2 linked regions of the Homo sapiens genome follow. The protein of the gene in region 2 interacts with the protein of the main gene of each other region in a pairwise test. Each region holds a gene or a part of one and is shown on either strand. Other genes may lie near its edges.

Region 1 (8,108 bases), on a different chromosome or scaffold from region 2:
GTTAATTTTGGTATAGAGAGTAAAAGGAACAGGCCGGACACAGTAGCTCAAACCTGTAATCCCAGCACCTTGGGAGGCTGAGGTGGGCAGATTACTTGAGGTCAGGAGTTCAAGACCAACCTGGCAAAACCCCATTTCTACTAAAGATACAAAAAAATTAGTTGGGCATGGTGGCAGGCGCCTGTAATCCCAGCTACTCGGGAGGCTGAGGCAGGAGAATTGCTTGAGCTCGGGAGGTCGCAGTGATCCGAGATCACGCCACTGCACTCCAGCCTGTGCGACAGAGCGAGACTCGGTCTCAAAAAGAAAAAAAAAAATAGAGAGTAAAAGGAACAAACGTGCAGTCAGGCACTAGGTTTGAAATTCTGGCTCTATTCTACACATATTAGCTATGTCACTTTGGGTAAATCATGTAACTACCACTTCCCTATCTGTAAAATGAGATGGCTGGGTAAAGCCATGAAGGGCTGGGTAAAGTCAAAATAAATAGGAAAAGACAGTCCATTACCAAAAAACAAAATGGATATCTAAGCACAAGTAGGTTACTTTGCTTGGTTTTGTGAGGTTAAAATGTGAATGTATGTGAAAATAACCTAGGAAAGTATCTAGTACATAGTAGTTCTTCAGTAAGTATTAGTTAAATAAACAACCCCTCAATCTTATTAATACTCACTACTTTGCCTTCTACCAAGTATATTTTTAAACTCTGAGATCTGTCCTATCTGAACAGCTAATTAACACATTGAACTTTTTCAAGACTTGCTAATAAATACCTTTTCCTTTTTAATCTGTGACATTAATTGAGGTAACAAGTGAAATGTCAGAGAAAACACTATACGAGTAAATAAATTTTGATTAAGGAATATCACATTTTCTAGCTTTTCTTTCTTTCTTTCTTTCTTTCTTTTTTTTGAGACAGTCTTACTCTGCTGGCCAGGCTGGAGTGCAGTGGTGCAATCTCAGCTCACTGCAACCTCCATCTCTCGGGCTCAAGCAATTCTCCTGCCTCAGCTTCCCAAGTTGTTGGGATTACAGGTGTGTGCTACCACACCCGGCTAAATTTTTTTTTGTCTTTTTAGAAGAGATGGGGTTTCAACATGTTGGCCAGGCTGGTCTCGAACTACTGACCTTATGTAATCCACCCGCCTCGACCTCCCAAAGTGCTGGGATTACAGGTGTGTGCCACCACACCCGGCTACATTTTCTAGCTTTTCTAACCACAAAGATCAAATTAACCATTTACCTTCATCATCTTCATCTCTTTCTTTATCTTCCAATGCTGATCTTTCCAACTGTCTTGCTACTTCATCCACTGAGGCTCCTGATTCTTTATCAGGTTCCTGTTCCCCTGCTGATCAAAATAAAATAGCAGAAATCAAATCTAATACAGACACTTTCCCACTAGAATATGCTCTAATGATCTTGGAAAACTTACAAATCCTTTCCTCAGGAAACAAAAACAGAAACATTATTGTGAACATAACAGAATTCGTTTAATGACAGAAAAATCTTCCATACCTACACAGTATTGTCCATTCATTAATTTACTCAACAAAATATCCATTACACACACTAGCAGCTAAAAGATAAACAGCGTGAACTGGTCTCTATCCTCAAGTAGTTTAACTTGTAATAGTGGTCAGCAATTAGACTTAACAAATACTTAAACACCAGATAGGTAATAAATGCTGAAGGCCTTAGGAAAAAGATTCATGTGCAACACCCCGGGGCAGCCTGGTTTCATGAATAAGGATATCACGATGGGCTGGGTAAAGTCAAAATAAATAGGCAAAGACAGTCCATTACTAAAAAACTAAAACGCTCAAATATCTAAGCACAAGACCAGGCCCCTGCTCTGGAAGTGATTATAACCTACCTATAAGAGCAATATGTTACATGCATTAATAGTATCAGGTAGCACGAAATGAAGTGACATTCTGGCTACTGGAGAGAATTCATATTAAGAAATACAACTGTTAAAAATACATTAGGATCAGTCAGCTTAACACCTTACAAGACAAACAGCAGTGTTTGAATTTCACTCGAAATCCAGGAACAGCCACCAGAGTAACAAATTTTGCTCTGGAAGAGTTCCAGCAACGCTACAACTCTCCTTCCATTCCTATCTAATCAAAATTTCAGAAAGATGAAGATTAGCTCTCTTCGACCTCTCTCAATTCCATCTTAATCGCTTCTGACTTCTCCATTTTCTGTTTCTCTGGCGATTTTAATTAGAAACAAGTAAAAATAATTTTTATTAAGGTGAAGGAGCTTGTGCAGCAAAAACACAGACTTCTCAAAATATGTAAGTTCCTAGTTCATAATATCCAACTGTAAACTCTCAGCAGTTCTCCTTGCCTTACCAGTGGATTTAGAGGTTAAGACCTCAGAAGTTCCATTCTGAGCCACAGAATATCCTATCTGCACTGCCTGCAATTGGTATCATAATTCAGGTCTAAAGGCCCTAAAGCTTGGCGATGCTATGGGATTAGGCAGGTGAAAATTCGTTATCACCACCACAAATTCTGCAATTAATGACATGAGCGCGCGGGCAAACACACATGTACACACACCCCAAAAGTGCAGGCTGCAACAACCCCAACGTGAAACGGGATAGTGGGAGGAGGTGTGCTCTCCATTACATTTGCCCACCCCCAAAGAAAATAAGTCCTAGCTTGCTCCAGCAAACCAGCAAAGACGCGGCAATACGGATCAGAATCGGATTTTTGAGGCGGCGGCCAAATCGCGCGAAAGATGGTAGGGCTGTGCTCTGCGCACAATCTCAAGACCGTGCCACGATGTGCGTGGGAGCTGAGTTCTGGTAATACAGGGGCTCGGGCCCAGCGACCCCAGAGGTACCACACGCCAACCTCAGGCACTCTTTTCTCCCCCACCAGCCCTCTAGTCCCACAGGAGGAGATGACGCCTCTTCTCAGACTAGGAATCTATAGCCCGGCTTTGCCACCCTGTCAGGCCCAAGAATCAGTCTAGTCGGGGCTCTGGGGCCCCGGTCCCGGCCCCCTCAACGGGCCTGAGCCAAACAGTTCAGCCGTTCCCGGAGGGGACTGGGAAAACATAAAACTCTCTTTACCTGCAGAAGGCCCTTTGCTCTTCTTCTTCTTTCGTCTTTTTTTCTTGGCTGCTTCCTCAGCCGTAGAGGCAGCTCCTTCTTCCCTGTCGTCTGGATCCAGGTCGCCATTCAGGTGGCTCCCGGAGGCCGCTACCTCCTCCACACCCGCCATGTTGCCCGAGAGAGCGCGAGGGAATGAGACAGAGCGGCGAGGGCCCCGATCCTTCTCCACCCGCCTACACCAGCCACGCCGGAAGCTGCTCTCGATGGTAGGGACGCAGGGAATGCTGGGACGGCGGAGGACTCAGCTGAGGGTGTCGGGCTAGCTTCGGGCCGGGCGTGCAGGAGTCTCGGCTTGGAGCCCCGCCTGGCTGGAGTCGACTGGGGCCAGACCCGACTGCTTCGTCCGGTGCCTCGGGCATTCCCGAAGCAAATCGGCAAGCGCAGGGTGAAGTTTAAAGGGGAAGTTGAGCTCTAGAGTCAGCCGGAGATACCTGTGGAGACGGGCAACCCGCCGTAGCAAGCGGCGTCTCTGCTGGAACGGAAATATTTTATATTTGCGTTTTTATAAATCACACAGGCAGTGGGGAAACGGGCTAAGAAATGTGTTCACTTGTACACATTTCTATTGTCATGACTCCACATATCTCTTAAATCTAAGAGATTTAATCAAATCTGCGTTGACATTCACAATCACAGCTCTCCGCGAGGCTCTGTAGGCACTGGAGAGAATTTTGGAAGCTGGAGTTCCGTGTTAGTTTATTGTACTACTCAACCCCGGACGGTTCAAGATGGGAACCCGTCACACTCCGCTCACTTTCCAATTCAGGACAAGAATGACAGGTTTTAACACACGGGGACACGGTCTCTCTCATTAATGCAAAAGATCACACTCCGTTTTCTCTATTTCTGGTCACCTTTCTTTTGGATTTAGGACGTTTCACCAGAAACTAATTGAATTTTGCCCATTTCTTTACTTCTTATGTTTTGAGCCTCATGTTCAAACCGCAGTTTGAGATTTAGTTTGTGGCGTAAGTGGATTGTGATTGGCTGCCTGCACCAACTCCTTCTCAATTTCTCCTGAATATGGCTTTGTCCACCTGGAGAGTTTAGGTGTTTTCATTAGTTTTAAACTAGGCACCAAGCTTCATGGGCATCAAAATGTCGTTAAGAGCCTTATTGCCAGTGAGTTTACAGTAAACCTCACACAGGCTCTGACTGCAGCTGCATAAATGTACATTCTCTGTCTTAAAGCTTCAGGCAGCACCTATCCAATAGTAATAAAAACTGTTCCTCTTATTCTTGTACAGATCTTTATCTCTTTAAATCTATCCCTATTTAGATTTTAAATTGTTTTCCCTAGTTGATTGCTGGCAATATAAAAGTTGGTAAACCGGCCGGGCGCTGTGGCTCACGCCTGTAATCCCAGCACTTTGGGAGGGCGAGGTGGGCAGATCACAAGGTCAGGAGTTCGAGACCAGCCTGGCCAATATGGTGAAACCCCGTCTCCACTAAAAATACAAAAATTAGCCGGGCGTGGTGGCAGGCGCCTGTAGTCCCAGCTACTAGGGAGGCTGAGGCAGGACAATCGCTTGAACCCCGGGGGAGGTTGCAGTGAGCTGAGATTGCGCCACTGCACTCCAGCCTGGGCGACAGAGCGAGACTCCATCCCCCCCAAAAAAGTAAATAAAATAAAAAATAAAAAGTTGGTAAACCAAACATAATACCACAAAAATAAAAATAGAAGTAGCTTCCATGTGTCCAAAATCCTTTAAAATGCCCGGCAAGACCCAGCCATATCTACTTCTCCAATGTCTCCACTCTCTTACTATTATAGCTCCAGCTCTCAAAGCTCTTTCTGACCTTGGAGCATTTCAAACTCACTGTTACTTTTATCTGGGCTGCTCTTTGCTTGGCTGACATATTCACTTATTCACTCATCCATCCATTCGTTCAATGCCTACTATAAACCTAGATCTGGCAATATTTAGAGAGCAAAAACAGAGATGATCCTTGTCATCATAGAGCCAGTTAACAAAAATAGACATCAAGCAATGATGCTAATAAAAGCAAATTTACAACTGCTGCTATGAGAGCATATTACAAAGGGACTTGCCTAGGTAGGATGGCCTGGTAGAGTTTCCTGAGGAAGTAGCAATTAGGCTGAGATCTGAAGGATAAATAGGCAAAGGGGAGGGGAAAGGTTTAGAGAGAGTATTTTTTTTTTTTTGAGACGGAGTCTCGTTCTATCACCCAGGTTGGAGTGCAGTGGCCTGATCTTAGCTCACTGCAACCTCCGCCTCCCAGGTTCAAGCGATTCTCCTACCTCAGCCTCCCAAGTAGCTGGGATTACAGGCGCCCACCACCACACCCAGCTAATTTTTGTAGAGACGGGGTTTTACCATGTTGGCCAGGCTGGTCTCAAACTCCTGACCTCAGGTGATCCACCTGCCTCAACCTCCCAAAGTGTTGGGATTACAGGCATGAGCCATTGCGCCTGGCAGAGTATTCTTGGCAAAGGGAAGGTAAAGAAAAATTTAAGAGGTATTTAAGAGGAGACATGGATTCTAATACTAGAATGGTCATTTGGCTATAATTTTGTGACTCTGGACAGCCCATATATTTTTGAGCCTTGATTTTCTCATCTGTAAAACAGTAGGGAGTATAACACATTTAAAGAACTAAAAAACATCCAGAATGGCTGGAATGCAAAGAGGTGGAGAAGGGAGTGAGTGTGATGAGATGAGACTAGAAAGGTAAGAGCCTTGCAGGAAGGAAAGGGTAGGAGAGCTGACAGAGCCTTTTAGATCATACTAAGGGCTTTATACTTTGTCCTAAGAACAATATAAAACTCTTAAGTATTTTATTTTACTTTTTTTATTTATTTTTCAGACAGGGTCTCATTCTGTTGCTCAGGCTGGAATGCAGTGGCGTGATGTCAGCTCACTGCAACCTCTACCTCCTGGGTTCAAGCAATTATCCCACCTCAGTCTCCCAAGTAGCTGGGACTACAGGCACATGCCACCACACCCAGCTAATTTTTGTATATTTTGGTAGAGACAGGGTTTCACCATGTTGGTCAGGCTGGTCTCAAACTCCTGACTTCAGGTGATCCACCTACCTCCCTTAAGTATTTTATTTTTATTTTTTATTTTTTTCTGAGATGGAGTCTTGCTCTGTCGCCCAGGCTGGAGTGCAGTGGTATGATCTCGGCTCACTGCAACCTCCGCCTCCCGGATTCAAGCAATTCTTCCACCTCAGCCTCCCGAGTAGCTGGGACTACAGGTACGCGCCACCACACCCAGTTAATTTTTGTATTTTTAGTAGAGACGGGGTTTCACCATGTTGGCCAGGCTGGTCTCAAACTCCTGGCCTCAGGTGATCCGCCCTCCTCAGCCTCCCAAAGTGCTGGGATTATAGGCATGAGCCACTGTGTCCAGCCCCCTTAAGTATTTTAATGGTGAGGAGACAGTTAACCTGATGAGAGTTGCAATTAACATGATTAGATTTTTGAAAAGATCACCATGGCTGCAGTGTACAGAGTAGAGTTGAGGGTGGCCAGAATGAAAGCAGGGAGATCAGTTTAGAGGCTATTACAGTCAATAGGTTATAGTGGCTTGAAAGGGAATGATGATGGGTATGACCAAAAAAATGAATAGATTTAAGAGATATGTGGGAGATAAAATGGGCAAGACTTGGTGATGAATTGTATAAGGGATTTGAGAGAGAAGAAGATATCAAGGAATCCCCTTCGGTGTGTGCTGGTGAAACTGGATTGACTGGTAATGTAATGTAAATAACAGAGATAGAAAAACATTTCAGATTTGAAAGGGAAGATTATGAGTTAGATGTGAGACATGCTGAGTCTGAGGTGTCTTGGGGCATTAAAGTGGAGCTGTGAAGAAGGTGGATAACTATAAGGAACTGGAGATCAAAAGAATAGTTGGAGCAGATATAAAAATTTGAGTCATCAACTAATAGATGGGAATTGGAACTTTGACACAGATAAGATCATCCAGCAAGTGGATCTAGACATGAGAGTCTACCTGTACTGCACAGCATGGTGGCCACCTACCACGTTGCCACTGAGCACTTAAAATGCTGCTAGTTCAGGCCGGGCGCGGTGGCTCACGCCTGTAATCCCAGCACTTTGGGAGGCCGAGGCAGGCGGATCATGAGGTCAGGAGATCGAGACCATCCCGGCTAACAAGGTGAAACCCTGTCTCTACTAAAAATACAAAAAATTAGCCAGGCGTGGTGGTGTGCACCTGTAGTCCCAGCTACTCGGGAGGCTGAGGCAGGAGAATGGCGTGAACCCAGGAGATGGAGCTTGCAGTGAGCGGAAATGGTGCCACTGCACTCCAGCCTGGGCGACAGAGCAACACTCCATCTCAAAAAAAAAAAAAAAAATGCTGCTAGTCCAAATTGAGTTATGCCATAATTTAGAATACACACTGAATTACAAAAACTTAATACAAAAATACTAAAGTTTCTCAATAATGTTATATTTATTGTTGAAATGATAATTTTTATATAGAGTTAAATAAAAACATCATTAAGATTGATTGTTACCTGTTTCTTTTTACTTTTTAAAATGTGGCTACTAGAAAATTTAAAATTACGTGAGTGACTATTGGAAATGTAAATTGTCAACCTTAAAAAAAAGACACTAGAGGCTAGGCATGGTTTCTCACACCTGTAATCCCAGCACTCCAGGAAGATCACTTGAAGCCAGGAGTCAGAGACCAGCCTGGGTTACCAAGCAAGACCCCCTCTCTACAAGGAATTAAAAAATTATCTGGGCGTGGTGGCATGTGCCTGTAGTCCCAGCTACTCGGAGGCTAAGGTGGGAGGATTGCTTGACCCAGGGGAAGTCAAGGCTGCCATGAATTATGATCACACTGTCACAGAAGGGCTGGGCTCCCAGCTAAACCCCACCCTTAAGCCTGGAACCATGGCCCTAAGTGAAAACAGCTGACCCCATTTTTCTGCCCAAATGTTGCTTTTTTGGCCTGCCCCACCCCATCCTGTGCCCATG
Region 2 (3,726 bases):
GTCTCTGCCTACGGGGGCTGGAGAAAGGAACACATTTGAAAGGAACCTGAAGGGTAAGTCGTATTTCCAAGGAAAAAGGAGATGGCATTCCAGACTGAAAGAACAATATAAAGAAAGGCCCAAAGCAAGTGAGTAGGTGACTGTTCTAAAATCAGGACTGGATTATCTGATGGGATGACCAGAGATGTACTGTCCAAGATACCAGTTGCTAGACATGTGCCTATTTAAATTAACATTACATATAATTAGAAATTCAGTTCTCAGTTGAATTTGAAGTACTTAATAATCCCATGTTTCTAGAGTCCATCACATCAGACAACACAGAGTATTCCTTTCCTCACTGCAAAGTTCTACTGAACAGTGCTGAGTATGAGAGTATAGGGTAAGCATGGTGCTGTCTCATGGAGCCTCAACTCTATCTTCAACAGTTTAATCTTTAGTCTAAATAAAAGTGGTTTATAAACCACTATATTCTATGAAATCCCTTTAGGAATTGCCGTGGGGGACTCCACCTTGGCAGCATTGCGATAACCTGCTTTACCCCCTCCAGCTTCTACGTTTCAGTGAAACACCGCTTTTGAAGAAAGAATTCTGCCAAATTTTTTTTTTTTTAAGGCTCAAAACCCACTGTTTTTTAAGCAGGAATGTGATAGATTTGGGTTTTAGGAATATTATCTCTCAGAGCAGTGTACAAGATACGTGGCAAGAAGAGACTGGGCAGACCAAGATCAGCATAGGCTAATGGTGACATGATAAAGGACTGTATTCAGTGAAGCCTCCAAAGAAATGCACAGTTAAGAATTTGTACCAGTAAATTTATTCCAAGTAAGACTTGTGTGCACACACCAGGCAGATAATTTCCACACAAACACCAAACATTGTAGTAAAACTAGTTAACACTTTGGCCATGAAACTCAAAGATACTTGAAAAACCTCTCGATAGCACTTTGAGTCACTTAATTCTGACAAATATTAATATGTCATCCATGCTTGCCCAGTTATAATTTTACAATATAATTGTATTTTTCATTGTACTTATTATTCATTATACTTACTATATATATTTAAAACATCTTTGCTGAAATTCTCTTATCCCAAAAATAATTTTTCAGTAACTCCAAAATACCCACATGTACCTCTTAGCAGGCTATTCCAATATCAAAATTCTTTTTCTTCAAGTAACAAGTTCTCAATCCACACCATTCCTGATCACAGATATAACTGATATGCAGTTTTATAAACAGCTCTTTTACTCCTTGTTCCTATTTTAGCAGGCCAACCATCACTTCACTGATATCCCAGAGTTTTCTTGCAACAGATTCATCCATAGCTTTGGGCAACAGTTCTTCCTCTTTACAATCCCCAAAGTATCTTCCTGACACTCCTTCTACCTCAGGTGAAGAGGCCAAATAAATGGAAGTCTGGGCACCTTCTACTGGAGTTTTGAAAAAAGCCCATGACACCAAATTGAAGAGTGGTTTGACCAACAGTGGAATGTGTATGTGCCTCCCCAGATTTGTCCGTACAATACCAGGATGCAACACATTGACGGTGACATTTGTGCCTTCTAAGCGGCGGGCTAGTTCCCTGGTAAAAAGAATGTTAGCCAGTTTGCTCCGGCTATAACAAAAGCTTTTATTATAGCTTTGTTCACTGTTCAAGTCATCAAAATTGATGTCTCCGTATTTATAAAGTTTGGAAGAAACTACCACAATCCTGCTGGGAGCTGAACTTTTGAGGAGTCCAAGGAGAAGATTGGTGAGTAGAAAGTGCCCCAGATGGTTCACTCCGAACTGCATCTCAAACCCATCTTCAGTCTTCATGTAAGGGCACTGGAAGATCCCTGCGTTATTGATCAAGACATCCAGCCTAGGCTCTTCCTTTAAATGTCAAAAAGAGAATGGCAGAATTATTAAGAACACACGCCTTGTATTGCTTTTTCTGTTCATGATAATTACATTTTAATAAAAATGGGCACTTGAGACTAAAAGCATTTAATTTCAGTTGTTGGTCTATCGATCAGAGAACTACTTGAAACACTGGCAATTTTGTGTTTAATAAATGGGGAAAGGGATTCCTCCGCAGGATGTTCCTCAGATAAATACTGATGTTCATGATCTTTCATTCAACAGCTCTTTTTTCTCATTTATTAAAATGATATACAGAAAGATATTTATCTACAGTCATCTTCCAATAAAAGATGTAGAAACTAAATCTAAGACTTAATTTCTGGTTTTATGCTTTTATAACAATAACATTTACAAATATATAAACTTTAACATTGCATTAGAAAGTTGACTACGTGATCAGTACCAAGATCTTTCTCAAAACAGAAATACAGTCAATTTGAGGACAAGGCACTCCTACAATCCCATATTTCTCCCTTTAATTTCAGTTGAACTAGGAAAATATCAATTTGGGAGTTATCAGGTTAATACTGAGATCATATCAAAATTATAAGTGTACCTATGATAAAATGTTTAAAAATACTTGCAAACTACTAAAATTCTATCCCAAAATGCTTCTATGAGCTTCCAATAATTGAGAGAAAAATAGAAAAAAAAATAGATGCAGAAGCTTGATAGGAGCCAGGCTTTGTGCTTTTCGCATGTCACCACATCTAATTCCAACAACTGTATAAGCAAATGAAGCTCACAGGCTAGGTGACTTGCCCAGTATCAGAACTCCTAAGTAGCAAAATAAGATCAGATCTGAAGATGAAGTCTTTGACACCAAGGCCTATTTTCTTAATTAGTAAGCTGGCATGGCTTTCTAATTGGGATTTTCAAAACAGCTAGAGAGGCAATGAAAGCTAGACAGACCATATGCTGTAGAAAACAGGTAAGCATAGTTTATTCCCAGAGCTACTGGTTATCAACACCAAGGGCAAACTTATGGTTGCTTTATTCTGTAGTTCTCTCAGGGTAAATGGCACCATGGGGGTGGAACAACTTCAAGTCATTTCCTTAAAAGTGAAACAAGCAATAGAAAAGGTCAGAAATGCAAACTTAACACTGGAGAGAACATCATGAATAAATCGAGATTCATAAAGAATAATCAAAGATTAAGAAAAAAATAATCAGGTAATATAAAAATATCCAGCGTAAAGGGGACTCTAGGAGATCTGTACAGTCAACATTTTATACTCTGAACTTATGCTTCTGTATCTTTCCAAATTAAAGTCCTAAAATTTAGACTGTTCTCATAGGGAAGTCTTTTTATTCCTTAAATCATGTAAGATGGTCTTCTCTAGCCTTTTCTCGGTTGTTCTGTTTCTTTTGATGGACAAAGAAATGCACATGTTCCAAGTGTAAAGACACTGTGATGACCCATGATTAATATGAGGTCAACTTTCAAATTTCACTGGCCCTTCTGCCAACTATAAGTGAAAAGAAAAATGTGTTACATTTCACAACTGTTATCGAAGCCCACCTGTCAGAGGATTAACTATTTCTCATTCTGCCCTGTCTAAGCATCTTTGGGTTTTCCAATAGTCAACTTCAAAAAGAAGGCAAGAGTTCACTCATGGGGGAAAGAAAGGAGTATTCTTTTTCACAAATCCTTTGGAAGATTTTCCTGAATTAATCATTTGTTATCCAGCATTCTTTGCTGGGCTTGTGTTATTTTAAAATTTTGTCATTTACTATTTTTTTAAATTCTACGAGATAAATGAAATAAATACCAAGAATACCAACCTGTGGGAAATCTACATTTCCATTTTTTTTT

What was found.
Region 1: the proteins of RDH14 (region 2) and METAP2 interact in binary tests that used the Homo sapiens proteins (3 or more experiments, as listed by UniProt).

The regions. Positions count from the first base shown.
Region 1 is NC_000012.12:95,469,314-95,477,421, reverse strand, and holds the start of METAP2 (methionine aminopeptidase 2), read right to left. Parts: upstream 3,271-8,108; 5' UTR 3,243-3,270; coding exon 3,092-3,242; intron 1,352-3,091; coding exon 1,244-1,351; intron 1-1,243. UniProt on the Homo sapiens protein: Cotranslationally removes the N-terminal methionine from nascent proteins. The N-terminal methionine is often cleaved when the second residue in the primary sequence is small and uncharged (Met-Ala-, Cys, Gly, Pro, Ser, Thr, or Val).
Region 2 is NC_000002.12:18,553,929-18,557,654, forward strand, and holds the end of RDH14 (retinol dehydrogenase 14), read right to left. Parts: intron 1,881-3,726; coding exon 1,263-1,880; 3' UTR 795-1,262; downstream 1-794. Other genes in the region: NT5C1B-RDH14 protein, read right to left, coding at 1,263-1,880. UniProt on the Homo sapiens protein: Retinol dehydrogenase with a clear preference for NADP. Displays high activity towards 9-cis, 11-cis and all-trans-retinol. Shows a very weak activity towards 13-cis-retinol. Has no activity towards steroid.